2 separate regions of the Homo sapiens genome follow, and region 2 is linked to region 1. The links come from fine-mapping of genetic effects on gene expression. A gene starts in region 1. The other region holds a variant in brackets. All regions are shown on one strand. Distances are from middle to middle. Region 1 holds the start of WNK4 (WNK lysine deficient protein kinase 4). Region 2 overlaps LINC00671 (long intergenic non-protein coding RNA 671).

Evidence for each region. PIP is the estimated chance that this variant, and not a neighbour inherited with it, causes the effect.
Region 2: its variant is fine-mapped to the expression of WNK4 in esophagus mucosa (GTEx, PIP 0.98).

The regions. Positions count from the first base shown.
Region 1 is chr17:42,777,317-42,792,313 of GRCh38, forward strand. It overlaps WNK4 (WNK lysine deficient protein kinase 4), which reads left to right and starts at 3,294. Exons shown (of 19, transcript NM_032387.5): 1 at 3,294-4,000; 2 at 5,442-5,614; 3 at 6,621-6,841; 4 at 7,106-7,263; 5 at 7,781-7,869; 6 at 7,950-8,166; 7 at 9,962-10,226; 8 at 10,462-10,583; 9 at 10,814-10,872; 10 at 10,974-11,091; 11 at 11,365-11,481. The coding sequence starts at 3,383. It overlaps VPS25 (vacuolar protein sorting 25 homolog), which reads left to right. Exons shown (of 6, transcript NM_032353.4): 6 at 1,641-2,283. The coding sequence ends at 1,753. RefSeq lists enhancers at 3,367-4,324, 5,614-6,813, 6,719-7,350.
Region 2 is chr17:42,868,777-42,883,773 of GRCh38, forward strand. LINC00671 (long intergenic non-protein coding RNA 671) reads right to left here. Exons shown (of 6, transcript NR_027254.1): 4 at 9,751-11,042; 5 at 9,199-9,297; 6 at 5,898-6,087. It also overlaps the pseudogene AOC4P. Among named protein-coding and RNA genes, the nearest start is that of LINC00671, 22 kb to the right of the region's middle. RefSeq lists an enhancer at 9,024-9,553. The variant T/C (reference allele first, on the strand shown) is at 8,051.

The sequences.
Region 1 (14,997 bases):
CCAGCCTGGCCAACATAGTGAAACCCCGTCTCTACTAAAAATACAAAAATTAGCCGGGCATGGTGGTGCATGCTTGTAATCTGAGCTACTTGGGAGGCTGCAGCAGGAGGATCGCTTGAACCCGAAGGCAGAGGTTGCAGTAAGCCAAGATCGCACCACTGCACTCTAGTCTGGATGACAGAGCGAGACTCCGTCTCAGAAAATAAAAATAATAACAATAAAAAAAATTATAAATAACTTTCTTCATTCAGCATCTGCTATAGATGCCGAATGAGAAACAAGGGCAGGGGATTAAGCTTGAAATCTCATTCCTTGCTGACTCAGGCTCTCTTTCACCCTTTATTCTTATAGAGGGCTCAAGATCTGTGGGTGTCAGCTGAAGAGATTAGGCCAACACCCCCAGCCCATTTATATACTTTGGTTTCTGGCCAGGCAAGGATTTGTATAGTGTTTGATTTTTACATAGCGTAAACACTCTTAGTTCTTTTTCTCCGACTCCAGATTCTGATCCTCTGGATCACCACAAGTTTCGATCTTAGCTGGGATAACAGAGGGTGTCTCCCCTTTCTGCCAGGCCCTGGCTGCCCTAGCAGAGTTTATAGCTCTTGGCTGTTCCCCCTGCTGCCCTGCAGGTCTCTGCTTGCTACTCCCACCATCACCCCATGATTTCAGCACTGTAGCCTTGCCTAGCCCACCACTCAGGTTGGGCAAAGTTGTAGGTTTCCTCAGAAAGCAAGCTCCCTGACTTAGCTGAGCCCCCACAGGGGGTGAGGTAAGCAAGCCTGTCAGGGCTTGCCTGCTGCCTCCCACATCTCCCTGCAGTATCTTACCATATCTCCACATACTCAGCTAGCCATAGGCTCCCCAATTTTTTTGGTTTTTTTTTTGAGACAAAGTCTTGCTCTGTCCCCCAAGCTGGAGTGCAGTTGCACGATCTTGACACTGCAACCTCCACCTCCCGGGTTCAAGTGATTCTTCTGCCTCAGCCTCCTGAGTAGCTGGGATTACAAGTGACCACCACCATGCCCAGCTAATTTTTTGTAATTTTAGTAGAGACAGGGTTTCTCCATGTTGGCCAGGGTGGTCTAGAACTCCTGATCTCAAGTGACCCTCCCACCTCAGCCTTCCAAAGTTCTGGGATTACAGGCGTGAGCCACCGCGCCTGGCCTGTGCTCCCAGCTAAAAGCTAGAAAAAGGGCAGATAATAGTGCTGGAGTTTAACAGTCTCCTGGCCAGGGGTACTGGCTATATTCTTTGTGTTAGGATAGATCCTCTAGGGTCAGTGTCTAGTGACAATGGCTCCGATCTCCCTAGGCCTGATTTTCACGGCCCCTTTGTGGCCCTGAAGCAGATGGTGTCATTCTCGTGCATCAGACACAAATGCTAGGTGTGGGGGAGGCTGAGTCTGAGAGGAGAACCAAGAAGGGGGAAATAAGCACAAACTCATTTCATGCTGATTCAGGCTTTCTTCCACCCCTTACTCCTAAGGAGTGCCTGGGAAGTGTGGATGGCAGCTGTAGCAGTATAGATGGCTTATGCATACCCTGCCTCTGGGAGGTCTCGGCTTCCAGCCAGAGCACTCTCCTCAGAGGCCTTGGGCCTCAGGAGCTGATTGTCTCTGCCTATCTCTCCCTGTTCAGAGTTCCACGGGCTGGATGAAGCCACTCTACTGCGGGCTCTGCAGGCCCTACAGCAGGAGCACAAGGCCGAGATCATCACTGTCAGCGATGGCCGAGGCGTCAAGTTCTTCTAGCAGGGACCTGTCTCCCTTTACTTCTTACCTCCCACCTTTCCAGGGCTTTCAAAAGGAGACAGACCCAGTGTCCCCCAAAGACTGGATCTGTGACTCCACCAGACTCAAAAGGACTCCAGTCCTGAAGGCTGGGACCTGGGGATGGGTTTCTCACACCCCATATGTCTGTCCCTTGGATAGGGTGAGGCTGAAGCACCAGGGAGAAAATATGTGCTTCTTCTCGCCCTACCTCCTTTCCCATCCTAGACTGTCCTTGAGCCAGGGTCTGTAAACCTGACACTTTATATGTGTTCACACATGTAAGTACATACACACATGCGCCTGCAGCACATGCTTCTGTCTCCTCCTCCTCCCACCCCTTTAGCTGCTGTTGCCTCCCTTCTCAGGCTGGTGCTGGATCCTTCCTAGGGGATGGGGGAAGCCCTGGCTGCAGGCAGCCTTCCAGGCAATATGAAGATAGGAGGCCCACGGGCCTGGCAGTGAGAGGTGTGGCCCCACACCGATTTATGATATTAAAATCTCAACTCCCACTGCCTGCCTCTTAAATTACTACAGTACTGGAATGGGGATGGGGAGGGCTGTGAAGTGTTGCCACCTGAGTAAATCCCAGCCTGGGAGAGGGGAGAGAAAAGAAAGCTTATGGCTTTTGTAGAAGAAAAGGTCCTCCAGGGCCCTGTGGGCTCCAGTGAGCCTGTGGTTTTACATCTGCTGGGTGGGCTGTGTGGAGGAGTGCTGATGGAACACAGCTTGGGGACAGACTGCTTTCTCTCTGAATTGGAGTCACTTAAGGGCTCCCCCTTCCCTCACCATCTCCCTCATGGAAGTCCTGAACTACTCTGAAGCCCCTCCCTCCACCCATCTGGTCTGGGTGGGGTAACTGTGGCCAAGGGGAGCTGAGGGGGGTAAGCCGGATGTGGACTTTGGTTTATTGGAGACTGGCAAACAGAAGGGGAGGAAGGAGAGCCCATATAGCAAAAACAGCCACTCTGGCCAGGGTTAGGCTGCGGCCAAGGTGGCCTGGAGGGGATGGATGACCGGGCTCTCGGTTTGGGGGAGGGACTTATCCTGGGGAGTACACACCCATTCCCTATGCAGACCAGAGGGACAACAACGTCAGACCTTTCCACTGACCTCTCCGTTCGGCCTGGGGCTACTCCGGACAGTTAGGAGGGGGTGGTGCTGCCTTATCTGGGGTGTGCAGGAGGGTGGTAGCCTCCCCCTAAGTAATCCCCCACTAGGGTCCGGGTGTCGTTCTCTCCTGCCCTCCTCCGCGCACAAACAGGTTTGCTCACTCTTAGTGCGGGAGGATGCTCCGCGGTCTCCCACTCAGTTCTGGCCTCAGAGTGAGACTGCGGCCGGGGGCTCGGGAAAGAAGGGGACGCGGCTGGGCGGGGCGGTGACTAAGGTGAGGGGCTGCTCGCGGGATCCGCACCGCGGGAGCAGCTCGGAGGGGCGGCCCTGGGGGGCAAGGGCGGGCCGCGGGGCGGCGACGGGGGCGGGGCCAGGCCGAGCTGGGGGCTGGGGCCGCAGCCGCTCAGCCGGAGCGCAGCGCACCCAGCGAGTCCGTCTGTCAGGCCGCCTCCTCTCCGGCCGTCTGATTTTCTACCCTTCGGCGCCCTGCTCTTCCTCATGTTGGCATCCCCGGCCACGGAGACCACCGTCCTCATGTCCCAGACTGAGGCCGACCTGGCCCTGCGGCCCCCGCCTCCTCTTGGCACCGCGGGGCAGCCCCGCCTCGGGCCCCCTCCTCGCCGAGCGCGCCGCTTCTCCGGGAAGGCTGAGCCCCGGCCGCGCTCTTCTCGTCTCAGCCGCCGTAGCTCAGTCGACTTGGGGCTGCTGAGCTCTTGGTCCCTGCCAGCCTCACCCGCTCCGGACCCCCCCGATCCTCCGGACTCCGCTGGTCCTGGCCCCGCGAGGAGCCCACCGCCTAGCTCCAAAGAACCCCCCGAGGGCACGTGGACCGAGGGAGCCCCTGTGAAGGCTGCGGAAGACTCCGCGCGTCCCGAGCTCCCGGACTCTGCAGTGGGCCCGGGGTCCAGGGAGCCGCTAAGGGTCCCTGAAGCTGTGGCCCTAGAGCGGCGGCGGGAGCAGGAAGAAAAGGAGGACATGGAGACCCAGGCTGTGGCAACGTCCCCCGATGGCCGATACCTCAAGTTTGACATCGAGATTGGACGTGGCTCCTTCAAGACGGTGTATCGAGGGCTAGACACCGACACCACAGTGGAGGTGGCCTGGTGTGAGCTGCAGGTGCGGCTGGGAGCCCCCTCGGTGGCACCTTGGGATGGGACTCTGGAGGTCTTAGGATGACAGACAGAGGGTGGGGGAGACAGCATCAAGGGAAGCATGTATTTTTCCAGTCAAATGTCTATAGACACCTCTGCTGTCTTTGCCCTGAATGATCTGGCTGACTCTGGGCTGCAGAAGGAGAGATTGAGGCAGGTGGTGTCTGGTGACTCCCCCATGGGTATGAACATTCTCACTTTAAAGTCTCCATACTCAACCCTGAGAGGTGGAAAATAGGATGGGAAGTTAGGCAGGGGAGCCAGTTCAGGTCAGTTTCCTGCTGGTGGGTACCCGCAATCCCTTCCTCTCCCCTAAGTCCTGAGATCCTCAGTTATGACCCTGGTCCTCTTGATCCCCTCACTCCTCCCGTCCCCCACCTATTTGCAGACCAGGAGGCTGGGATGCGGGAAGCCAGGAGCTGGGCAAGGGTCATCTCCAACTCCAGAAGATTTAGGGCAGTTGTGGCAGAATAGGGCCCCCTAACCCCTTCTGGAGCAGTCAGACTTCTGGACTTCTCCACAGCTGCGAGGAGGGGGACATAGGGAGCTCCAGCTCTCGAGTGAGTCCAGTTCTGCTCCTCATCCCACTGCCTACCTGTGCTCTCCCTTCCCAGACCTAAAGGCACTAAGCCCATGGGCTTTAGGGGGACCTTCCTCCCATTGCTCCCATGCTACATATGGGTTAGGAGAACCCAGTCAACTTGGGGCCTGAAGCTTCCGATTCAGATCAGGGGACAGAGCCTAGGGGAAGGGTCCCTCTCCAGCCCTGGCACAGGGCTCGCCCCTTGCGCCTGCCAGTGCCGCGCCCCAGGCTCTGGGCCAGGCCAGGAGAGGCAGCCAAATTGGGGGGTGAGGGGAGGGAGAGGAGCCGGGGCGGGACGACTATGGGGGTGGGCAGCCTCCTGGCGCCTAGTCCTGGATCTTTTCTTTCCTTCTCAGTACCTCCCTCCATATCCCTCCCGCCTTCCGTCTGGATCTAGCAGTTCTGTTTCTGGGGCCAACCCCCTTGCCGGCCCCAATTCCCTGCCCGCAGTATCCTGCTGCCCGCCTGCTGCCTGCTCACTGCCAGCCCCCGGGTGCCCCCTCCCGCCCCATGGCCGGCCTGGGCAGCCACAAAGGCACTATTGAGCTCAGGGCTCTGGGACCGGGCTGCATAAAGGTGCTTGTGTCCAGCAGGGGGTCTAGGGGGCTGCCCCAGGCCCAGGTTGGGTGTGTCCTTGGATCAGCTTACGTGCGGGACTGTTGGAGAGTTCAGGGTCTGCAGCCCACTGGGCAAGTAATCCCATTAACCCCACCCCATCTGTGGGCTCCAACCCTCACCTCTTCCCCCAACCCCACTCCAGGTGTCCCTCTTCCTTTCTGTGGGTGTCCTGGGCCTGACATGACACCCGTCCCCCATCCCACAGACTCGGAAACTGTCTAGAGCTGAGCGGCAGCGCTTCTCAGAGGAGGTGGAGATGCTCAAGGGGCTGCAGCACCCCAACATCGTCCGCTTCTATGATTCGTGGAAGTCGGTGCTGAGGGGCCAGGTTTGCATCGTGCTGGTCACCGAACTCATGACCTCGGGCACGCTCAAGACGTGAGCTCTGCGCATGAGTGGGTGGGGAGAGGGAGGCTGGGATGTGTGCCCACTGCTTCCTGAACTCCCAGGCTCCTCAAACTCTCTAATATCCAGGTGTAAAACCAGGTTCACCATCTCCCTCTCACCCAACCTTTGTCCCTGCCTCGGTGAGTGGCAATGTCCACCCAGCACTCCAGTAAAATACTTGGGTGTCTCCCCAGACTCCTCTTTCTCCACTCTGCCCCCTCATCAGTCTGTCCCCAAGTCTTTCCTTAACCTCTCCCCACCTGGCTTTCACTGCTTCATCCATGCCACCACCTCAATGCCATCTCGCTGATCTGGAGCCCTGCAGCAGCCTCCTAAAGGGCCTTCCCAAACTCTGCCACCCTCTAAGCGATCCTATCTTCCTGCAGCCTGGAGAATCTTTCCCAGTTGAAAATCTGAACTGTCACTCCCCTCCTTAAAACCCCTTCAAAGTTTCTCATGGCCTTGGAATAAAGCCCACACAGGCTCACCTGTTCACAAAGTCCTTAGGATACAGCCTCACTTTCAGCCTAAGCTCCAGACACACCAAATTCCTGGCACCTCCTCCCACCCTGCCTTGTCACTGGCTTTTTCTGTGCCTTTGAGCACGGTGTCCTGTCTGCCTGGGAAGTCTCCATCCCTTCCCCCTTTCACCTTTGAGCTCCTACTCATCATTCAAGATGCAACACAAAAGTATTTCCTCTCCGAAGCTCTCCCTCATGCTTGGGGCAGTTAGTCATCCCTTCCTGCGCTCCCACAGCACCTTGGCCGAGGCCCTATCTATCAATTTACTTCCCAACCCGTTTGGTAACGTCATGTCTATCCACCATGCCCCCTGACTCAGTTTCTCCCTGGGGCCGGGCAGACATAGGCTAGGAGAATGCTGGCAGAAGATGCGGAGGCGGCAGCAGGGTGCGGCAGGGGGGAACTTCCCAGTGGGGGGCTCCTTCCCGGAGGACGTGTCCCCCCACCAGGACTCTGGCTATGCGCCCTCCCCCAGGTACCTGAGGCGGTTCCGGGAGATGAAGCCGCGGGTCCTTCAGCGCTGGAGCCGCCAAATCCTGCGGGGACTTCATTTCCTACACTCCCGGGTTCCTCCCATCCTGCACCGGGATCTCAAGTGCGACAATGTCTTTATCACGGGACCTACTGGCTCTGTCAAAATCGGGGACCTGGGCCTGGCCACGCTCAAGCGCGCCTCCTTTGCCAAGAGTGTCATCGGTGCGTCTCTCCAGGAGGGTCCATGCCATTCCTTCCTCCCCCACCTCAGAAGAGAACCTGGGGACTCCCTCCCCTCAGCAAGGGCCTTCAAGGTCCACAAAACTACCAGACGACAGGGAAGCTGAGGAGACCTATGGCACCCACCTCAACCCCACTGTGGGCCGGGGTCACTTGCACTCGCAGGGTTGCCTGGGGCTGCCTAGCCCAGTGGGAAGGACGAGGCCAGAGTGCCCAGCAATCTGATCCCTGCTGTGGACCCTACAGGGACCCCGGAATTCATGGCCCCCGAGATGTACGAGGAAAAGTACGATGAGGCCGTGGACGTGTACGCGTTCGGCATGTGCATGCTGGAGATGGCCACCTCTGAGTACCCGTACTCCGAGTGCCAGAATGCCGCGCAAATCTACCGCAAGGTCACTTCGGTGAGAGGGATGGGGCTGGCGGGAAAGGCAATTCCAGGGCCACTTCCCCTTTTCCTGCGCCGGCCAGCCCGCAGTCAATGCCCTTTGCCTGCACGAAAACAGGCTAGACACAGAGTCGCCTTGGTGAACACAGAAGGATATTGAGTGCACACGCGCCCCCACCAGTACACGCTATTTAGAATAATAATATGTGTGGTGCTCCCAAGAGTTCACAAATGATTTCGCATCCCATCTCTCATCCAATCCTTCCAGCTGCCCTGTGAGGTGAGCGGGGCAAATGTTCCACCCTGCGATTTACAGATGAACAAACAGCGGGAGACTTGTTCAAGATCACACTGTAAATACTTGGGGGGGGGGCGGGGATTAGGATTTGAAATCACATCTTCCAGTAGCAGTCAGGCTTTTGCAACTGCACGCGCAGCTGCCTAAGGAGGGAGTGGAGTAAGGGGTGGGGGGTGGTGTCAAGCCGAGAGCTGGGGATCAGAGGACGGGAGGTGTCATGCAACCCCTTCCCCAGGGCAGAAAGCCGAACAGCTTCCACAAGGTGAAGATACCCGAGGTGAAGGAGATCATTGAAGGCTGCATCCGCACGGATAAGAACGAGAGGTGGGGGTGAAAGGGCAGAGCGTGGGTAGAATAGGGCCGCGGGCCGCGGCGGGCTCGGCTCACCCACGCGTCACCCTCAGGTTCACCATCCAGGACCTCCTGGCCCACGCCTTCTTCCGCGAGGAGCGCGGTGTGCACGTGGAACTAGCGGAGGAGGACGACGGCGAGAAGCCGGGCCTCAAGCTCTGGCTGCGCATGGAGGACGCGCGGCGCGGGGGGCGCCCACGGGACAACCAGGCCATCGAGTTCCTGTTCCAGCTGGGCCGGGACGCGGCCGAGGAGGTGGCACAGGAGATGGTGAGCGGAGGACAGACTGTGCTGCCACTGGACGTGTAAAGGACATTGACTCGAGGGGACAGTGCAACAGGGATGGGGCGCAGGAGGGGTGGCAGCGATGGGGGCGGGGCACCTCACCCCTCTCAAAATCTCCTGCAGCGTCTCCCTACCTCTCCAGCCCTAACTTACCCGCACGCACACCCAGTTTTCCTTTACAGAGGGAGCCCTGGGTCCTCCAGCGTCCCTGCTTTACCTCCAGCTGATCTGTTCTTCCTGGGATGCCCTTCTTGCCAATTCATCTTTTCCTTCTTTCCTCCCTCCCCATTTTTCTTTTTCTTTTTCTTCCAATATGATCAGAACCATCGATTTCGGGAAGCCGTCCCCTTTGGAGTCAAACTTAAATGCTTCTTTCCACTTCAGCATGTTCTCGGTTACAGCACTCCCCACTATCGGTCCTGTCTTAAACCTGAATAAGTTCCTATCTTTCTTCTCCACTAGACTATAAACTCCCTGAGGGCAGAGACTGTGTTTTATCGATTCTTCTATCCCTGGCAGTGCTTGGCACATAGTAAGAGCTCATTAATAGCCTACATCTGTACATGGCTTAAAGCACTTTCACATGCATTTGATCTTTGCTACCCATCCTGCATAGGGGGCAGTTTTATCTCAACTTGTTGATGAGGAAATGGAAATTCAGAGAGGTTGAATACCTTGTCCAGGGCCCCAAGTAAGTAAGTGGAAGAGCTGGATTGAAACTGAGGTGGTTCAGATTTTAAATCAGGTTACCCTTCCCCACCTCCTTTACTCATTCAGCAAAGCTTGCGGCTAAAAGGAATGAGGAGGTGATGAATGGAAGCTGGTAGAAGGGGAGAGGCATAAGATGCAAGGGCAGAAGCTTGGGGGCTGGCTTAGGAAGTCCTGAAGGGAGTATGGGATTCTTTTTTTGGGAGTAATGGAGTCTCACTCTGTCACCCAGGCTGGAGTGCAGTGGCGCTATCTCAGCTCATTGCAACCTCCGCCTCCTGGGTTCAAGCAATTCTCCTGCCTCCGCCTCCTGTGTAGCTGGGATTACAGGCAAAAGCCACAACGCCCAGCTAATTTTTGTATTTTTAGTAGGAACGGGGTTTCACCATGTTGGCCAGGCTGGTCTCGAACTCCTGACCTCAAGTGACCCACTAGTCTTGGCCTCCCAAATTGCTGGGATTACAGGTGTGAGCCACCGTGCCTGGCCGAGTATGGGATTCTTAATAGAGACATGACAGTTGCAAGGGTGGAGACCACCTACGGTAGGTCAAGAATCTGAGAATGTGTTAGAAATTTAGAGCAGGTCTCCATAGCACGGCCCAACCTGACCTGAGATCAAATCTTGATCCATTGCTGACAAGGGATTCTTGGCCTTGGCACTGTTGACATGTTTGTTTTAGGGACTGTCCTGTGCATTGTAGGATGTTGAGAAGAACCCCTGGCTTCCGCTCACTAGATTCAGTAGCACCTACCCTCCAGTTGTGGCAACTAAAAATGTCTCTAGATAGTGCCAAACATCTCTTCTTCCCATTGGAAACCACTGACTTACTGTATAACTATGAACCAGCTACTTCATTAATCTCTAAAAATCGAATGGTAAGATTTATCCCACAAGGTTGTTTGGAGGATCTAGTGATGATAATGTAAGGAGCTGCCAGTTAACAGACATAGTGGGTAATCAGTAAGTGTTGGTTTTCTTCCTCCCATATCCTGGAGTTCCCAAGAAGGCGTCCTGATGGATCTTTGATAGGGGGTCCCAAGCTGTGTTCCTCATCCCCCACCCCAATTCCAGGTGGCTCTGGGCTTGGTCTGTGAAGCCGATTACCAGCCAGTGGCCCGTGCAGTACGTGAACGGGTTGCTGCCATCCAGCGAAAGCGTGAGAAGCTGCGTAAAGCAAGGGAATTGGAGGCACTCCCACCAGAGCCAGGACCTCCACCAGCAACTGTGCCCATGGCCCCCGGTCCCCCCAGTGTCTTCCCCCCTGAGCCTGAGGAGCCAGAGGCAGACCAGCACCAGCCCTTCCTTTTCCGCCACGCCAGCTACTCATCTACCACTTGTAAGTCACCCCTGATCTTGAGACGTAGGTCCCAGAACACCTTGGCCTCTGCCCCCTACCCAGAAGTTCACCCCCACAGCAGTCACTTACCCTGCCTTCCACCTCTAGCCATGAAGCTCCCTCCAGGAAGGAACTCTCCCACAGCTCCAGGCCCCTCCTTGCTTAGGCAGGCCCCATCCTCTGCCACTATTCCCTTTTATTTCCCCTTTTTTTGATCCTCTCCCTCCCCAACCAGCGGATTGCGAGACTGATGGCTACCTCAGCTCCTCCGGCTTCCTGGATGCCTCAGACCCTGCCCTTCAGCCCCCTGGGGGGGTGCCATCCAGCCTGGCTGAGTCCCATCTCTGCCTGCCCTCGGTGAGAGGGGGTCGCATGGGGGGCTCCCAGCCATTCCAAGCCTATGACCTATCTCCCTCCTTGTGAAACCCAATCTCATGATCCAGTCCCATGTCCCTGGAAATCCACCATTCTTGCCCTCCTCTTCCCTAATTCCATCTCCCTAATATCCTCCCAGCATCCTTGACACCATCTCCCTAGATCTCAACAGTTATCTTCCCCTGACCTCATGAACCCTTATCCTGTTTCAGGCTTTTGCCCTATCCATTCCACGTTCTGGCCCTGGAAGTGACTTTTCCCCCGGGGACAGGTATGTTCTGGTACAAGTTGGGGTGCCAGGGTGAGACACCTGGGGCACTGGGGTCCCAGTGTCTGCTCTGACAGTCATTCTCTCTCCTTTCTCTTTAACAGCTATGCCTCAGATGCAGCTTCAGGCCTTAGCGATGTGGGAGAAGGGATGGGACAAATGAGGAGACCCCCAGGGAGGAATCTCCGGCGCAGACCCCGATCCCGGCTGCGGGTCACTAGTGTAAGGATGGAGTACAGGAGATAGAGAGTAACCTACAGGGCCAGGAGGGAAGTGTCAGGGGGAGGCGGGGGAGGTCACCCAGAAAACGGGAGAAGCAGTGTATGACTAGTACTCAAGAGGCGGCCAGTCTGGTTTCTAATACCAGACTTTAGAGGTGGGGTCTACTTATCTCCAAGTCCATTGTGGCTGCTGTCACTTGGCTGGGGTAGGGTGGAGACACAGCATGATGAAGAGGGCTTGACCTTCTCCCCTCTGCTGACTTTGAATCTGAAGGTCTCAGACCAGAATGACAGAGTGGTTGAGTGCCAGCTACAGACCCATAACAGCAAGATGGTGACCTTCCGATTTGATCTGGATGGGGACAGCCCGGAAGAGATTGCAGCTGCCATGGTGAGGGGGAGAGAGATGAGGACAGAGTGTTTGGATCTGGAACAAGAGTCTCCTTCCTGATGTCCGCTGGGGCTGAAACCCACTGATCCGACAGCAAGCATTTTTAAATCTCTGGTTGACACTTAGCACAGTAACGCTGAAGATGTCTCAGCCCTTGTTTTGGGGGAGATTTCTGTTTATCCAGTGAGGTTTGGCTTCTCAGCTGGAGCAATTTGAGACTCACATTGACCGGGTACACACAAGTGCTACGTATAAGTGCCTGGTAGATGTGCAATACTGTGGCTGTAGGTGAAGGATGGACTGGGCAGCAGGGGCAATGAGCTTACCCAGGATCTTGGCAAATGGGCAAGAAAGGCTGTGAAGGGTGGAAAGGCCATGAAGGGTGTCCCTGTGCAGGGACAGCATAAGCAAAGGCATTCCAAGTAGAGAGTGTCTTGGAATATGGGGCTGGGAGGGCTTCATGAGGAAACCACTATCACTGGAAGTAAAGATTCCTATAGGAGAGTTGTGGGGAGTGAAGCCGGGTAGGTAGAGTGGGCCCAGATTGTAGAATAGACAATGTTAAGAGTTAGGCAGAGGCCAGGCGTGGTGGCTCACACCTGTAATCCCAGCACTTTGGGAGGCCGAGGCCGAGGCAGGCAGATCACCCGAGGTCAGGAGTTCAAGACCAGCTTGGCCAACATGGTGAAACCCCGTCTCTACTAAAAAATACAAAAATTAGCTGGGTGTGGTGGCGCATGCCTGTAGTCCCAGCTACTTGGGAGGCTGAGGCAGGAGAATTGCTTGAACCCGGGAGGCGGAGGTTGCAGTGAGCCGAGATCACACCATTGCACTCCAGCCTGGGCGACAAGAGTGAGATTCTGTCTAAAAATAAATAAATAAATAAATAAATAAATAAATAAATAAATAAATAGAGAGGCAGAGCAGGCTAGGTCCAGTGGCTCACACCTGTAATCCCAGCACTTTGGGTGGATGAAGTAGGAGGATTGCTTGAGCCCAGGGGTTCAAGACCACCCTGGTAATATAATGAGACCCTATCTCTACAAAAAATTTAAAAAATTAGCCGTGTGTGGCGGCACATGCCTGTCATCCCAACTACTTGGGAGGCTGAGGTGGGAGGATCACTTGAGCCTGGGAGGTCAAGGCTGCAGTGAGCTTTGATCACGCCACTGCACTCCAGCCTGGAAGACAGAGTGAACTTTGTCTCAAAAAAAAACAAAAACAAAAAAACAAAAAGGCACAGTGTAACGTGACAGTAGGCTTTATGAAAATCATCTGCCATGGGATGTGGAAGGGGGAAGGGAAAATACCTGGGAGGTAGACCCAGGAAGCCATCTGTGGACAAAGGAGAGAGTGGCTTATGGGAGGGAAGAGGAGAAAGGGTGAATCTGAGGGTTGTTTCGGGAAAATAAGTTACTCTGTAATCCAGTAACCTATTGACGTAGTAGAGAACATAGTACATAGTAGATGCTCAATAAATATTTGCTGAGTTGATATGATTGGGAGTTAGGGAGAAGGGATGTCAAGGACAACTTGTAGGCCACCAAAGGAGAGTAGGAGAGTAGGCCACCAAAGGAGAGAGGAAATTAGAAATGAAAGAAGGTTTTTTTTAAGGAGGTCATGATGAGCTTGAGTGAAGAAGGGACAGCCAAGACAAGACCCTCCATAGCCATGGATATGGGTCAGGCAGGGCTGGAGAGATGTGGATGGAGGAGTAGTCAGTACAGAGTTGAGAGTGAAGGGAGATGAGCCGGCAAAGCCAGAGACACAGAGGGTTGCAGAGTGTGTCTCAGCGCATACCACCAGTTCTGGAGTGGGAAGCGGGAGGGTAGGTCATCGAAGGACACAGAGACAAAGCCAGAGACGTAGGAGGATGTTAGTCAAAACTGAGTGAGGAGAGAGTTTCAAGGAGGTGGCATAGGATGAATCCTCAGGCAAGACCACACTGGCTTTTGTTAGGAGATCTTTGTGGGAGACCAGTTTCAGTGGAGTGGGGGTGGTGGATGCCAGCCCATGGGGTGAAGGAGGGAAAGGAATGGGAGAAACACCAGGCATCAGGAGCCCTCTCTAAAGCATCTCCTCCATCATGTCATTCACCTTGTGTCCAGGACAAAGACACAATATCACCTGGCACACAAGGCTCATCACCTTCCGTCAAACCACTTGACTCTTTCAGAGTCTTCCATCCAGCCACACTGGTTTCAAAATGGGCCTCTGAAAAGGCTGGGTGCCTTCCTGCCTCTGCCTCCACCTCCTTAAGGGTCTCTCACTCGTAGAGCCTTCTGTATTGGGCTTTCAAGTCCCCTCTGATCCTGCACAGCCAAAGTGACCCCACCCCATGCACCCAGAGTCCTTTGCCCTCTTTTCTCTCCTTACCCAGTCCACCCTCCACTCCTCTGCAGCAGAATTCTCCTGAGACTTGGATCTGATCTCTTGATATTCACCCGAAATTATTTAGTGGCTACTTGTGGTTGTAGAGTAAGGTCCAAATTCCAAAGCCTTTAAAATTCACAGCACATTCAGCTACACTTGAGTCCTCACTATTTTAAGAATAGGCTGTGCCGGGCATGGTGGCTCACGCCTGTAATCCCAGCACTTTGGGAGGCCGAGGCAGGCAGATGACCTGAGGTCGGGAGTTCAAGACCAGCCTGACCAACATGGAGAAACCCCGTCTCTACTAAAAAATACAAAATTAGCTGGGCGTGGTGGCGCATGCCTGTAATCCCAGCTACTTGGGAGGCTGAGGCAGGAGAATCACTTGAACCCAGGAGGTGGAGGTTGCGGTGAGCCACGGTCATACCATTGCACTCCAGCCTGGGCAACAAGAGCGAAACTCTGTCTCAAAAAAAAAAAAAGAAGAAAGAAAGAAAGATTGAATAGGCCGGGCGCAGTGGCTCACACTTGTAATCCCAGCACTTTTGGGAGGCTGAGGCAGGTAGATCACTTGAGGTCAGGAGTTCGAGACCAGCCTGGCCAACATGAAGCCCTGTCTCTACTAAAAATATAAAAATTAGCTGGGCATGGTGCCAGGCAGTCCCAGCTACTCAAGAGGCTGATGCAGGAGAATCTCTTGAACCCAGAAGGTGAGGTTGCAGTGAGCCAAGATTGTGCCACTGCACTCCAGCCTGGGTGATAGAGCAAGGCTCAGTCTCAAAAAAAAAAAAAAATAATAATGTACCATGCCTTTCATGCTTCAAAGCTACTACACTGTTCTCTCTGCCTAGACTGCTCTTCTCTTCCTGATGAACAGCCTGGAATAGAGGAAGGGGTCGCTTTCATGTAATACCTAAGTTCAAACTTCAGCTCTGTTATTTACTAATCCAATGAACTTAGGCAAGTTTCTTAACTCTGTAAACTTCAGTTGCATGTAAGTAAAATGCAGATGATAGTATTTGTTTTGCAAAGATGTTCTGATACGACACAGTGTAATGTAGAAGTGTCCACACATGGTAGGTCCTCAATAGAGATTGCTTTTCTCATCTGTCAATGTTCAGCTCCAAAGACTTACTCTGTGAA
Region 2 (14,997 bases), 91 kb after region 1:
TTGGTGCTGCCCAGAGGTATGGAAACAAAGTTTCAGAGCACACCCTGGGCACGGTCCACACCCACAGCGCCCACTTCAAGGTGGACCTGGATGTAGCAGGTAAGGCATCCTGGCAGAGGCAAAAGTGCTGGAGGGGTGAGCTGAAGTCTCCATGCCTAGCTTTAAAAGTTTTCGTTGGGCTGGGAGCAGTAGCTTATGCCTGTAAGCCCAACACTTTGGGAGACTGAGGGGGGTGGATCACTTGAGGTCAGGAGTTCAAAACCAGCCTGGCCAACATGGCGAAATCCTGTCTGTACTAAAAATACAAAAATTAGCTGGGCATGGGTATGCTGTAATCCTAGCTACTCGGGAGGCTGAGGCAGGAGAATCACTTGAATCTGGGAGTCAGAGGTTGCAGTGAGCTGAGATTGAGCCACTGCACTCCATCCTGCGTGACTGAACAAGACTTTGTCTCAAAAAAAAAAAGTATTCCATGCTTTAAAAAATTACCTCTGTGATTATAGAATTTATTATATTGTATACTATGTATAAATATGATATATTGATATAAGTATTTAGATTTCTATATTCAAATGTTATCATAATGTACCTACGTTTTGCCACTTCTGTTTTTTCATATAACAACATTATTCAAGCAAGCAACAAAAATGTATGAATGCACACTTGTGCCAAGCACCCAACTATGCAATTTAACAAAAGAAACAACATTGTTGCTCTCAGATGGTTTACATTCTTTTTTTCTTACCTTTTGTTTTTTCTTTTTTCTTTTTTGAGACAGGGTCTCACTCTATCACCCAGGCTGGAATGAGGTAGTGTGATAATAGCTCACTGCAATCTCCAACTCCTGGGCTCATGTGGTCCTCTCACCTCGATCTCCCAAAATGCTGGGATTACAGGTGTGAACCACCATGCTCAGCCCTTATCATTTTTTCGTGGTGAGAACACTTAAAATCTACTCTTAGCAGTTTTCAAGAATATATAACATATTAACTGTAGTCACCATGTTGTACAATAGATCTCTTTGGGGTTTTTGTTGTTGTTTGAAACAGGGTCTTACTCTGTCACCCAGGCTGGAGTGCAATGGTGTGATTACAGCTCACTGCAGCCTCAACTTACTGGGCTCAAGCAATCCTCCCACTTCAGCCTCCTGAGTCACTGGGACTATGGGCACATGCCACCATGCTCAGGTAATTTAAAATTTTTTTTATAGAGATGGGGATCTCGCTATGTTTCCCAGGCTGGTCTTGAACTCCTGGGCTCAAGCGATCCTCCCTCCTCAGCCTCCCAAAGTGCTGGGATTACAGGCATGAGCCACCATGCCCAGTCCAATAGATCTCTTGAACTTCTGAAATTTTTTATTCATTGAGCTACATCTTCCCAACTCCACCCTCCTTAAGGCCCTGATAACCACCATTCTATTTCCTACTGCTATGAGTTCAACTTTTTTTAGATTCCACATATAAGTGAGATCATATAGTATTGTCCTGCTGTATCTGACTTATTTAATTAACATAATGTCCCCTAGGTTCATCCATGTTGTTGCAATGAGATTTTATTCTTTTAAGGCTGAATAGTATTTCATTATGTATATATAGGACATTTTCTTTATCCTTAAAATTTTTTCCTTATTCCTTATACATTTATTAATTGGAATTTTCCATAAGGAAGAGTTGTCCTTCCTTTTTATTTCTGTTTTCAATTATTTATTCAAATTGTATAGACTCATGGTTTTTTATTGTACTCTAAGGGTTATAACCCAGTACTTCATTTATTTTGTTCCTTACATTTTTCCAACTTTGGCCATTGGGAGATCCTTCAGATTAGTTCCTATGTCCTTTTCACATACCTCCACACGTTTTTGAGCACTTCTTTACTTTCTGGCACCCAAAAATGTTTCAATTTCATCTGGCATTTTCCCTGCTTCTACCCTGGAATCAACCTTGTCTCCAGGGAGATCGGGTTCACTTTATTGGAGAATGGTATTTAGAAACCAATATCTGGGCACCAAGTGTGCTCATTATTACTGGGATGTCATTGCTTTTAGGCCCTCTCAGTGGACTTAGCTAGAAAATTTAAGCATATATTCCAACCAACCCATACACACACATCTATCTTTATCTCTGTTATTAAATGATGACAACTTTTAAAACACTTGGAACAGTGCCTGACACATAGTGGGCCCTTGAGAAATACTAGGTATTGTTGTGATTAGCCACAGGAGCCTACTTGTGTGTGTGGACCATAAAGAACTCTTAGTCTCTGGCCGGGCACAGTGGCTCACGCCTGTAATCCCAGCAGTCTGGGAGACTGAGGTGGGTGGATCTTCTGAGGTCAGGAGATCGAGACCAGCCTGGCCAACATGGTGAAACCCCGTCTCTATTAAAAATACAAAAATTAGCTGGGCATGCTGGTGTGCACCTGTAATCCCAGCTACTTGGAGGCTGAGGCAAAATAATCACTTGAACCTGGGAGGCAGAGGTTGCAGTGAGCCAAGATCATGCGACTGTACTCCAGCCTGGGCAACGAGAGCGAAACTCTGTCTCAAAAAAACCAAAAAAACAAAAAAAACTCTTAGTCGGCAATTGTCACCTAAGGGTGGAAACACTGGGATATGGAGTAGGGGCAGTGAATCTACAAAAGGAAACTAAGGGTTTGCTGAATCAGTCTCTCCTCTCTCCTGGTCTTTGGAAGGTGCAGAGGGAGCTACCAGCATGTTTTGATTTATTGCTCCTTGTCTCAGATCACTTAACTTGACTCCTAATATGGGACCTAGTTAGACTCAAATAAAATCATTCAGACTCCAAAAGTTCAGGAAACAGATTGTGTCTTAAGCCCCGCTCCCTGCTCCCTGCCAAATTTCAAACTGCGAAAGGTATCTCCAAGCCCCAACAGCGTCGGGCCCAGTATTGGTTTTCCTTCCCCTTGGTCCCCATGTCTGCTGTTCTGTTGTGGTGTCTCTCTGTGCTGTCTTCCTCTATGTGCTGATGTGTGGGCAGTGTAAGGCCAGACTAAGAACCAGGTCCCCAGCACTGCCATGATATTAACCGTGTGTCCTTGCTGACCAACCAGGGTACATTATTGAATGCTCTAAGACTCAGTTGTCCCATCTGTAAGATGGAGACAATGATAGTTCCTCCTTTTTGAGATTGTTGTAGAAGTGAAAGCATGAATACACAGAAGGCACTCGGCATGCTCCCTACACAGCTCCTTCAGGTTGAGTCAATGTGAGGCTTATTTTCATGATAAGGCAGTCCTGGCAATGCCACAGGGCTTCACATGTGAGGAGAAGTCTTCAGGTCAGAGGGAGTGCCACCTGCCTATTGCCCACAGGATTGTTCCAACCTCAGGTAAACACCCTCCCATGCAGCCCCTCAGAGGGAGGACATTGGTGGAGGCCCAGTCGCAAGGCATCTGGGATTATTACCAGAGAAGACAGAAGGGAGAAAGCCCTCCTCCAAATCCCTGGACTGGGACTATCTTGGGGAGAGGGAAGAGAAGCAGGGGCACACTCAGTTCTGGGCTGCTCTTTGGCCCCCACTCTGCCCCCACTCTGAAGCCAGGTGGGGGCAGAGTCCAGAGGGGCCAGGGCAATTGCATGACTGGCCCTCCCCGATCCCACCCTGAGCAGGACTGGAGAACTGGGTCTGGGCCGAGGATATGGCCTTTGTCCCCATGGCTGTGCCCTGGAGCCCTGAGCACCAGATGCAGAGGCTGCAGGTGACCCGGAAGCTGCTGGAGACAGAGGAGCAAGCCACCTTCCCCATGGGAGGCGCCACCCCTCGCTACCTGTACCTGGCCAGCAACCACAGCAACAAGTGGGGTCACCCCCGGGGCTACCGCATCCAGGTGCGCAGCTTTTCTGGGGAGCCACTGCCCCAGAACAGCTCCGTGGAGAGAGGCTTCAGCTGGGGGAGGTGAGTGGTCGGCGGTCAGGAGGGAGTGGGGCAAGTAGAATGTATGAAGGGCTCCACACTGCTCCACCTCCCACAGGTACACACAAACACACACACACATTCCTGTGGCCGCAATCTGTAGGCACTCAAAACAAAGCCTAATGGGTGGGTGGAGGAATGCTGAGATATGAGGCATTGAAGAAAATCTAGGAAAATGTTAATGGTAGACGCTAGACTTGAGTATGTGGATGTTCACTATACAATTCTTCCAATTTTTCTGTATGTTTAAAATGTTCACATTAAAGGTTGGAGGAAAAAAACAGTGAGATGGGAACACAGATCGGAGGGAGGATTCCCTGAAATCTAGGTATTTGAGATACTGAACTTGACCTAGGATGGGAAACAGGCCATGTCCATATGTATGGTTCCAAGGCCCAGGCTCAACATCATGCTCTGATCCAGATGGATGGATGAGCAACATTTCTACCTGAAGCCTGGTGGGCCAGTTGATGTTTAAGGTACAGGACAGTGGACAAGTGGGGGAAGTCTGCAGAGGAGAGAGAGAGAGACAGAGACAGGCAAGGAGAACTGGACAAAGAATGATACAGAGGCTCAATACTCCAAGACTTTGGGGCTCATTTCCCCCTAGTGTTCACTCTTCAGTGCAGCTTCAGGCAGTGGGACAGTTGACGAACTTGTAGGTCTAATAAAAAACTCCTGTAGGTACCAGCTGGTGGTAACCCAGCGGAAGGAGGAGGAACCTAGTAGCACCAGCATCTACAATTTGAATGACCCTTGGACACCCACTGTGGACTTCACTGACTTCATCAACAATGAGACCATTGCAGGGCAGGTTAGTTGCGCGGAGGGGTGAGCAGGCAGCTGGAGAGGAGGGGAGGAGTCAGGGGGACAAGATGAGCCACTTCACTGCCTCAGAAGCGAGATTCCTCAGGGATCTTCAGAAACCACTAACAATGAAACTTTGGCCGGGTGCAGTGGCTCATGCCTATAATCCCAGCACTTTAGAAGGCTGAGGCAGGTGGATATCTTGAGCTCAGGAGTTCGAGACCAGCCTGGGCAACATGGTGAAACTCCATCTCTACTAAAAATACAAAAATGAGCAGAGTGTGGTGGCGCGTGCCTGTAATTCCAGCTATTCGGGTGCCTGAGGCTTGAACCCAGGAGGTGGTGATTGCAATGAGTCGAGATCACACCACTGCACTCCAGCCTAGGTGACAGAGCGAGACTCTGTCTCAAAAAAAAAAAAAAAGAAAGAAAGAAACTTTATGATTTCAGATTTTTCCTGAGAAACTAAGAACATACAGGTGGGTGAGCTGACTCCCTATCTGCAAGGTCACTGTGGGAGGCAGGGCATGTCCTCAGCAAAGCCAGACCTCGTGATCCTCTTTCTTCTCCCCTGCTAGGACTTGGTGGCCTGGGTGACAGCTGGTTTTCTGCATATCCCACATGCAGAGGACATTCCTAACACAGTGACTGTGGGGAACAGCGTGGGCTTCTTCCTCCGACCCTACAACTTCTTTGACGAAGACCCCTCCTTCTACTCTGCCGACTCCATCTACTTCCGAGGGGACCAGGATGCTGGGGCCTGCGAGGTCAACCCCCTAGCTTGCCTGCCCCAGGCTGCTGCCTGTGCCCCCGACCTCCCTGCCTTCTCCCACGGGGGCTTCTCTCACAACTAGGCGGTCCTGGGATGGGGCATGTGGCCAAGGGCTCCAGGGCCAGGGTGTGAGGGATGGGGAGCAGCTGGGCACTGGGCCGGCAGCCTGGTTCCCTCTTCCCTGTGCCAGGACTCTCTTCCCTCCACTGCCCTCCTTCACATCCCCCTCTGAGCCAGGAGCCTCCTGACCCTGTGATGCCTGACACAGGGGACAGTCAGCTTTGTTGATGCCAGCTGTGCTGAGTTCCCATCCAGAGAGGTGAGGCATGGCCCAGCCTGGAGCCTGGAGCCGTGGCTAAGCATTTCTCCAGACCACTCCTGGTTTTCTTAACAGTTTGTTTTTTTTAATGAGACATAATTCACATACCATAAAATTCATCCCTTTAAAGTATACAATTTCAGCCGGGTGCAGTGGCTCACGCCTGTAATCCCAGCACTTTGGGAGGCCAAGGCGGGTGGATCACGACTTCAGGAGATTGAGACCATCCTGGCTAACACGGTGAAACCCCGTCTCTACTAAAAATACAAAAACAAAATTAGCCAGGTGTGGTGGTGGGCGCCTTTAGTCCCAGCTACCTGGGAAGCTGAGGCAGGAGAATGGCGTGAACCCAGGAGGCAGAGCTTGCAGTGAGCCGAGATCGCGCCACTGCACTCCAGCCTGGGCGAGAGAGTGAGACTTCATCTCAAAATAAAATAAAATAAAATAAAACTAAATATACAATGTCATGATTTTTTTTTTTCCTGAGACAGAGTTTCGCTCTTGTTGCCTAGGCTGGAGTGCAAGGGTGCGTTCTCAGCTTACTGCAACATCTGCCTCCTCAGTTCAAGTGATTCTCCTGCCTCAGCCTCCCGAGTAGCTAAGATTACAGGTGCCCACCACCACGCCTGGCTAATTTTTTGTTTTTTCTTTTGTATTTTTAGTAGAGATGGGGTTTCACCATGTTGGCCAGGCTGGTCTCAATCTCCTGACCTCAGGTGATCCACCTGACTCGGCCTCCCAAAGTGCTGGGATTACAGGCATGAGCCACTGTGCCTGGCCCAATTTCATGTTTTTTAGTATACCCACAAAGTTTTGCAACCATTGCCACTAATTCCAGAACATTTTTTATCACCCCAGAAGGAAACCCTGTATGTGTTAGCAGTCACTTTCTATTTCCCCCCAATCCCTCTCCATTTCTAGATAACCACTTCCCTACTTTCTGTCCCACTGGGCTTGCCTGTATTCTGGCATGAAAAGATTCAAACAATACGTTGTCTTCTGTGATTGGCTTCTTTCACTTAGCGTAATGTTTGTGAGATACATCCATGTTGTAGTGTATGTCAGTGCCTCACTTCTTCATGGTTAAATGATATCTCATTGTATCAATATATCTCATTGTGATTATCCATTCATCCGTTGGTGGGTATTTGAGTTGTTTCCACTTTTTTGGTCATTATAGATAATGCTGTTATAAACATTCATGCACAAGTTTTCTTGTGGATATGTGTTTTCACTTCTCTTGGGTATATGCCTAGGAGTAGAATTTCTGGGTTATGCGGTAATTCTATGTTTAGCCTTTTGGGAAACTGCCAGATTGTTTTCCAAAGTGACTATACTTTTTTCCTTCTTTTAAAATTGTATAAAATATATGTAACATAAAATTTGCCACCTTGGCCCAGGCGAGTGGCCCACACCTGTAATCCCAGCACTTTGGGAGGCTGAGGCAGGCGGATCAACTGAGGTTGGGAGATCGAGACCAGCCTGGCCAATGTGGTGAAACCCCATCTCTACTAAAAATACAAAATTAGCTGGGTACGGTGGCATGCGCCTGTAATCCCAGCTACTTGGGAGGCTAAGGCAGGAGAATCACTTGAACCCGAGAGGCAGAGGTTGCAGTGAGCCCAGATTGCACCATTGCACTCCAGCCTGGGCAAAAATAGCAAAACCCAGTCTCAAAAAAAAAAAAAAAAAATTGGCCACTTTAACCATTTTTAAGTGAGAGTTTAGTGGCATTCAGTAAATTTGGAAGCTCTTTTGGGCCACCTTAGCTCTCCTCTGTCCTGTTTTGTTTGTTTGTTTGTTTTTTGTTTTTTAAGATAGATTCTCACTCTTGTTGCTCAGGCTGGAGTGCAGTGGCATGATCTCGGCTCACTGCAATCTCTGCCACTCAGGTTCAGGCGATTCTCCTGCCTCAGCCTCCCAGGTAGCTGGGATTACAGGTGCCCGCCACCACGCCTGGCTAATTTTTGTATTTTTAGGGGAGACAGAGTTTCATCATGTTGGCCAGGCTGGTCTCGAACTCCTGACCTCAAGTGATCCACCTGTCTTGGCTTCCCAAAGTGCTGGGATTACAGGCGTGAGCCACCATGCCTGGACTGCCCTGGGTCTTAAAGGTGAATAGGGAGCCTCTAGAGACCAGACTGTTCTCCCAAAGCCCCAGAGCAGGTTCCCCAGTAGATGTGCATCTCAGTTTTGGGCCTTGAATAGCAGGTCCTTCTC[T/C]CTGTCTGTTCCCTCTCATGCTGACAAAGTCCTCCTCCTCTCGGTTTTCCTGCTACTTCAGCTTCTATTCCCTGCTGGTTTTTGTTTTTTGGTTTTTGTTTGAGATGGAGTCTCTCTCTGTCACCCAGGCTGAAGTGCAGTGGTGTGATCCCGGCTCACTGCAACTTCCACCTCCCAGGTTCAAGTGATTCTCCAGCCTCAGCCTCCCAAGTAGCTGGGACTACAGGCGTGCGCCACCACGTCAGGCTAATTTTTGTATTTTTTGGTACAGACAGGGTTTCGCCATTTGGCCAGGCTGGTCTCAAACTCCTGACCTCAAGTGATCCTCCGGCCTCGGCCTCTCAACGTGCTGGGATTACAGGTGTGAGCCCCTGCGCCTGGCCTGTTCCCTGCTGTTTGTAGCGGAGGTCCTGTGGGAGCGTCCCTGCTGCCTCAGGTCTTGTAGTTCCTTCCTGCATTCCTTACTTCTGGTGTCCTCCTCTGCCCCTGGGCTGGGTTAGCCTTGGATCTGCAGGTACTGTCTTGTTTGAAGAAGGACAATGCTTGGTTATCTCCTTCTGGGGGACCTATGTCTCTGAACAGCTTTCTTCATCTTGCCTCTCTGCATTTCATTGTCATAAAAAAATGTTTCTCCTGTCATCTTGTCATCTGCCTATACTAATAATCCTCTTACAAGTTCCTGCCATTTACACAGGCCATGCGGAATATGCATTTGTGAGGGGGAAGGATGGTCAAGTGTCAGCAGCAGCCCAGGGGTTTTGTGGGTGGAAGGATGAAAAAGATGAAGGGTCATCTGGTCCCAGGGCCCTGGTGACAGTAGCCTCTGTTACTCTGCAGCAGTCAGCATAGGTGACCAGAAAGTCACTGAGGGTAGGCACTAAAAAGCCTCAGGAGTGGCCAGGTGCAGTGGCTCACACCTGTATTCCCAGCACTTTGGGAGGCTGAGGTGGGCAGATCACGAGGTCGGGAGTTCAAGACCAGCCGGACCAGGGCTGCCCCTCATGGGCTGTGGACTTTGGACTTTGGATTGGCATAAATAAGAACCGGGACAATTCCCAGGAAGGGATTTGGGGGTGGGAGTAAGGTGGGGAGGAGGTAGGGCTCAAACACCAAGCTTTCTCAGGTGTGTCAAGGCAAGAGAAACTTACGCAGTATGAGGCGTCCACACCTCTGCTCCTTCAGTGTCTTTTCTGGGAGTGAGATCAAGAAGAGAGGGTGTCCCGTCCCAGCAGATGGTGAAACCCCGTCTGTAGCAAAAATACAAAAATTAGCCGGGCGTGGTGGTGCGTGCCTGCAATCCCAGCTACTCAGGAGGCTGAGGCAGGAGAATTTCTTGAGCCTGGGAGGCGGAGGTTGCAGTCAGCCGAGATCGCACCACTGCACTCCAGCCTGGGCAACAGAGTGAGGCTCCGTCTCAAAAAAAAAAAAAAAAAAGTCTCAGGAGCTCGGGCAGCCAGGTGGGGAGCTGGCCCATCAGGAGTTGGCATGCAAATGAGCCACGTGCCTCCCAGCGGGGGACCAGAGGCCAGGTCAGGGCAACAGCCTCCAGGGCTGCCCGTCATGGGCTGTGGACTTTGTATAGGCATAAATAAGAACCGGGACAATTTCCAGGAGGGGATTTGGGAGTGGGAGTAAGGTAAGGGGGAGGTAGGGCTCAAACACCAAGCTTTCTCAGGTGTGTCAAGGCAAGAGAAACTTACCCAGTATGTGGCGTCCACACCTCTGCTCCTTCAGTGTCTTTCCTGGGAGTGAGATCAAGAAGAGAGGGGGGGGTCCCGTCTCAGCAGGAAGCCCAGGCTGCCCACCCAGTCTGAGGGGACGGCACTGACTGGGCAGGATCTGGCAAGAGGGGAGTTTAGGGTGCAGATTTGGGTCCAATTCAGCTTGTGACCAGAAGAGGGATCATCAACTGGGATCCCAGATCACATGGAATCCTGTGGTTCCCTTGAGAACTGCCTGGACCCCCAGGTCAACCATATGGGCTGGAAAGGAAGTAAGTTCTAGCAAAAGGACCTTCATACAAGGACTAAAGCCGTGGGAACCACACTTCAATTCATGACTTTCAGCATATCTTGAAAGCACTTAGATAGGGAAGGTTTGGAAAGGCAGAACTGCTACTGCCGCTGCTGCTGCCTCTTCTTTCCATTTTGTGTCTCAGCTCAAAGATAGAGCTTCTCTTTACCCTCTCAGCCCAGATAAATATCTTGTTTTGCCTTTCTTGCATTTTTTTTTGTTTAAAGAAATTTGGAGGCTGAATTGGGAGGATCACTTGACCCCAGAAGGTCGAGGCTGCAGTGAGCCATGATTGCGCCACCGCACTCCAGCCTGGGCAACAGAGTGAGACCCTGTCTCAAAAAAAAAAAAAAAAGGCCGGGGGGGGGAGCATAATAGTGGAAATGCTCTGTCTTGCCCTGAAAATGAATGCTGTAGAGAGCCAGGGCTGCCACTCTTGGCTGCTCCACAGGTTGCTTCTCCAGATGCGGAGATGGGGAGAAGGGACCTGTGGCCCCAGGCTGAGGTCTGTGAGGGGCCTGCTGCTGTGGCTCACTTGCTGACCAAGGAGGATGCCATACGGCCCCCCACTGGGGTCTGAGGGCGCAACCCAAGCCACCCTGAAGGGGTGTGTGCACAAGGAGCTCTCAGGAGAAGCCCCCAAGGTGGCCTGTTGGAAGGCTCTGATGGGAACATTTCCTTCCACCTTCAAGAAAGAAGCAATGGGACCCTGAAGAATGCAGCCCAGAGAGATCCAAAGGGTCAGAAGCTCTGGGGCAAATCTGGTAAACTTCCTGGGGGTGCCACAGACTCATCTCCACCTTGCCCTGTGGTCTGGCCCCGCCTTCTGGTGGAGCCTGCCCCCGCCTTCTGGTGGAGCCTGCCCCGTCCCCACCCTGACACTTGACCTGTGGCTGACAGTGGGCCACCTCTGCTCCACTCAGGCTCCGTGGCCGGAGAGTCTGCAGCTTCTCTGGCATTCCTCCTCCCCGTCTGGGTCCTGTGATGGAAACAGTCTCATTCAGCTGCCCCAGAGACTCACAAGTCCTTTACTCATTCAGCAAGTATTTTCCAGTCCCTGCCATGTGTTGGGCCCCTGTTAATTCTATAGTAATATTTGTTGTGGTAAATAAAATTGCCTTCATAGTGATGTCATGGTGGAGGGAGGAACACTCAGGAGAAGAGGGTGTCTCTGAGCCCACAGAGCTCCCACTGCTATTTCTAAGAGGCCAGCAATACATCTTTGCATTTCAGAAAACTGGGTCTATTCAAGAAATAAAGATGGATGGAGGTCAAAATGGGAATGGATTTGGAGAACAGAGTGGGGGTGGGGATGGAGCAGGATGGAAATGAGAGGGGGTGGAGAGGGAATAGGGGGGAGGTTGGTGATGGGGAGGGGACAGGATAAGGAACAAGATGAGGAAGGGGGAAGGTGGAGTTGGAGTGGAGATGAGGATCAAAGTGAGGAGGGCTGGGTCATCCTCTGGCCTCTCCTACCATGCCCCATCTACACGGATGCAAAGAAAACTTCATTCACTCATCGAACGTTTCTGGGACTCTTCCTGAATGCCAGACTTGCATTGGTACAGAAAAATGACTCTCTTCATACTTGCCTTCAAAGAGCTCAGAGTCTGGGCTGCGGAGAGGTCTTTTTATAAACAAAAACACTGGCCGGGCACAGTGGCTCACACCTATAATTTCAGCACTTTGGGAGGCCAAGGCGGGTGGATCACATGAGGTCAGGAGTTTGAGACCAGCCTGGCCAATATGGAGAAACCCTGTCTCTACTAAAAATACAAAATTAGCCAGGCGTGGTGGTGCATGCCTGTAATCCCAGCTACTTGGGAGGCTGAGGCAGGAGAATCACTTGAACCCAGGATGTGGACGTTGTGATGAGCCGAGATCGTGCCATTGCACTCCAGCCTGGGCAACAAGAGTGAAACTCTGTCAAAAAAAAAAGAGCTATGACAGACAAGTGGGGCACAGAATGAGGAGCCATCTATCCCTGGTGGGAGTCTGGGAGGACTTCAGAGAGGAAGTGATGGTTATGTGTGTTTAATTGGATTCATTTATTTAATTCAATTAGTAATACATTCACATGTTCGAAATCCTAAAGGCACAAAAGAACTTGTGTCTGGTCATGGTTGCATAATTCTGTGAATGTACCAAACACCATGGAAACCATTGAATTATGTACTTTAAATGGGCGAATGATACAGTATGTGACTTATAGCTCAATAAAATTGTATTTCAGAAAAGGGTTTATGTCTCCATCCCACATCTGATAATAGTTCCTCCCTGAAGTCAAATAATATGGTGAGTTTCTTCTGTATCTTTTTTGTTGGGAGTTGGGGAGTGACATTTGAAGTGGTGAATGAGCTGAATTTAGTCAAGTAGTGGACTGCGGAATACAGTGTTCTGGCAGTGACAGAGGCACGAAGGCTCGTGGTTCTGTGAATGCCCCAATGGTTGGAGCATGGGGTGAGGGTGGCAGAATGGCAAAGGCTGATTGGGGGTGGGGTGAGCAGAGCCTTGGAGGCCATGCGAGGCAGTGTGTACTTCATCTGTAAGCAGTGATGATCCAGACCTTTAAGCTGCATGAAAAACAATGTGACAATAATTTAAAGACACCCAAATCTCCTTCCAACATCCCGTTGTCATTCACCTAAGTGAAACTGCAGTTCTTGTCTCTATGCACTCATGCGTTTACCTAGTTAGGTAAGCACAGTCTAAATACACTTTTGTATTCTACTTTTTCCATTTAATATTAATCATAAGCATCTTTACAGGTTGTCATGTAATACTCAAATGGATTTTTTTTTTTGAGATGAAGTCTCGCTCTGTTGCCCAGGCTGGAGTGCAGTGGCACGATCTCCGCTCACTGCAAACTCAGCCTCCTGGGTTCAAGCGATTCTCCTGCCTCAGCCTCCTGAGTAGCTGGGATTACAGGCACCCGCCATCGCGCCTGGCTAATTTCTGTATTTTTAGTAGAGACAGGGTTTTGTCATGTTGGCCAGGTTGTCTCAAACTCCTGACCTCAGGTAATCCACTCGCCTAGGCCTCTCAAAGTGCTAGGATTACAGGCATGAGCCACTGCACCCAGCCAAATGGATGGTTTTTAAAGGATAAGAGGTACTCTATCAAGTCGATAGTAAACAAATCATTCCCCATTGGGCAATTGGGTTGGTTCCAATTTGCTATCAAGTGGAAGAATGACCCAGTTGGATCTTGGCTTTGGACAATGGCTTTTACATGGCCAACTCACAGGCTCAGAGCTAAAAGGGATTCAGGGAGTCAGCTGGGCTCATCCTTAGGGTTTCTGTGGCCGTGAGTAAGCACCCCATCTGAACCCATTTCTTCATCTGGAAAGTGATAATGTATTTAAATCACTCAAAAGCTTTTTAGGCCTTGGTAGATTTCTCTGACACTGGAAGGTCCAACCACAGCCTACCTGTTACGCATCAAAGGAACTATCTGAAGACACTGGAATCCTAGCCAGGCAGGGTGACTCGTGCCTGTAATCCCAGCGCTTTGGGAGGCTGGGGCAGGAGGATCGCTTGAGGCCAGGAGTTCAAGGTCAGCCTGAGCAACAGAGTGAGATTCTGTCTCTACAAAAAATTATTAAAATTAGCCGACCGTGGTGGCACATGCTTATAGTTCTAGCTACTTGGGAAGCTTGAGATAGGAGGATCAAGTGACAAGCCCAGGAGTCCGAGGCTGCAGTGAGCTATTATTATACCACCGTACCCCAGCCTGAAGGACAGAGTACCCCAGCCTTGTCTAAAAAAAAAAAGACATAAGACTTTGACGTCCAGATGCTCTCTCCATATTCTGGCCTAGAAAAGTGTCCCCATCACCCTCTTGCCTTCCTTGGTCAGATGGCAAATGAGTGTCTGGGGCAGATGCACTCTGGAGGCTCAAGAGGAAACATTCGGGGCTGCCTGCAGCAGTGCTGAGGCTGCAGTTTAATTTTCTTTGACATCAGTGGTAGAATTTGTCCACTAGGGGCCGGGCGCAGTGGCTCACAACTGTAATCCCAGCACTTTGGGAGGCCGACGTGGGTGGATCACCTGAGGTCAGCAGTTCGAGACCTGCCTGGCCAACATGATGAAACCCTGTCTCTATTAAAAATACAAAAAATTAGCTGACCGTGGTAGCAGGTGCCTGTAATCCCAGCTACTCGGGAGGCTGAGGCAGGAGAATCGCTTGAACCCAGGAGGCAGAGGTTGCAGTGAGCTGAGATTGCACCATTGTACTCCAGCCTGGGCAACAAGAGCAAAATTCCGTCTCAAAAAAAAATAAAAATAGAATTTGTCCACTAGGTACTGTGCTAGGTGCTGGCGGGGGAGACAGTGGGTCCCAGACAGACAGACATGGCCCCCCGACTGGCTTGGCCCAGGGGAGATGCTGCTGGAACAAGAAAACCTCTCTGATGGTTCTTGGAAGTGGGAGCTGGCCCGAGGCCCTCCATCTGCCCCTCATCTCCCTCTCAGAGGCTGTTGCTTCTTCTCTCAGACCCTCTGGCCCCAGCTTCCCTGTAGCTGCCACAGAAACCTCATCATATGAAGGGAAAGAGGCTGTAGCATTCTCAGTAGGGCCCGGGTCTCAAACACCTCCATGCTGCATGTCTCTTATACCACTTTTTTTTTTTTTGAGACGGAGTTTTGCTCTGTTGCCCAGGTTGGAGTGCAAGTGCCATGATCTCGGCTCATTGCAACCTCTGCTTCCCGGGCTTAAGCGATTCTTGAGCCTCAGCCTCCCAAATGGCTGGGACTACAGGCACGCACCACCATCCCCAGCAAATTTTTGTATTTTTAGTAGAAATGGGGTTTCGCCATGTTGCCCAGGCTGGTCTCAAACTCCTGAGCTCAGGCATTCCATCTGCCTTGGCCTCCCAAAGTGCTAGGATTACAAGCATGAGCCACAGTACCCAGCCCCTTATGCCTCTTAACTTT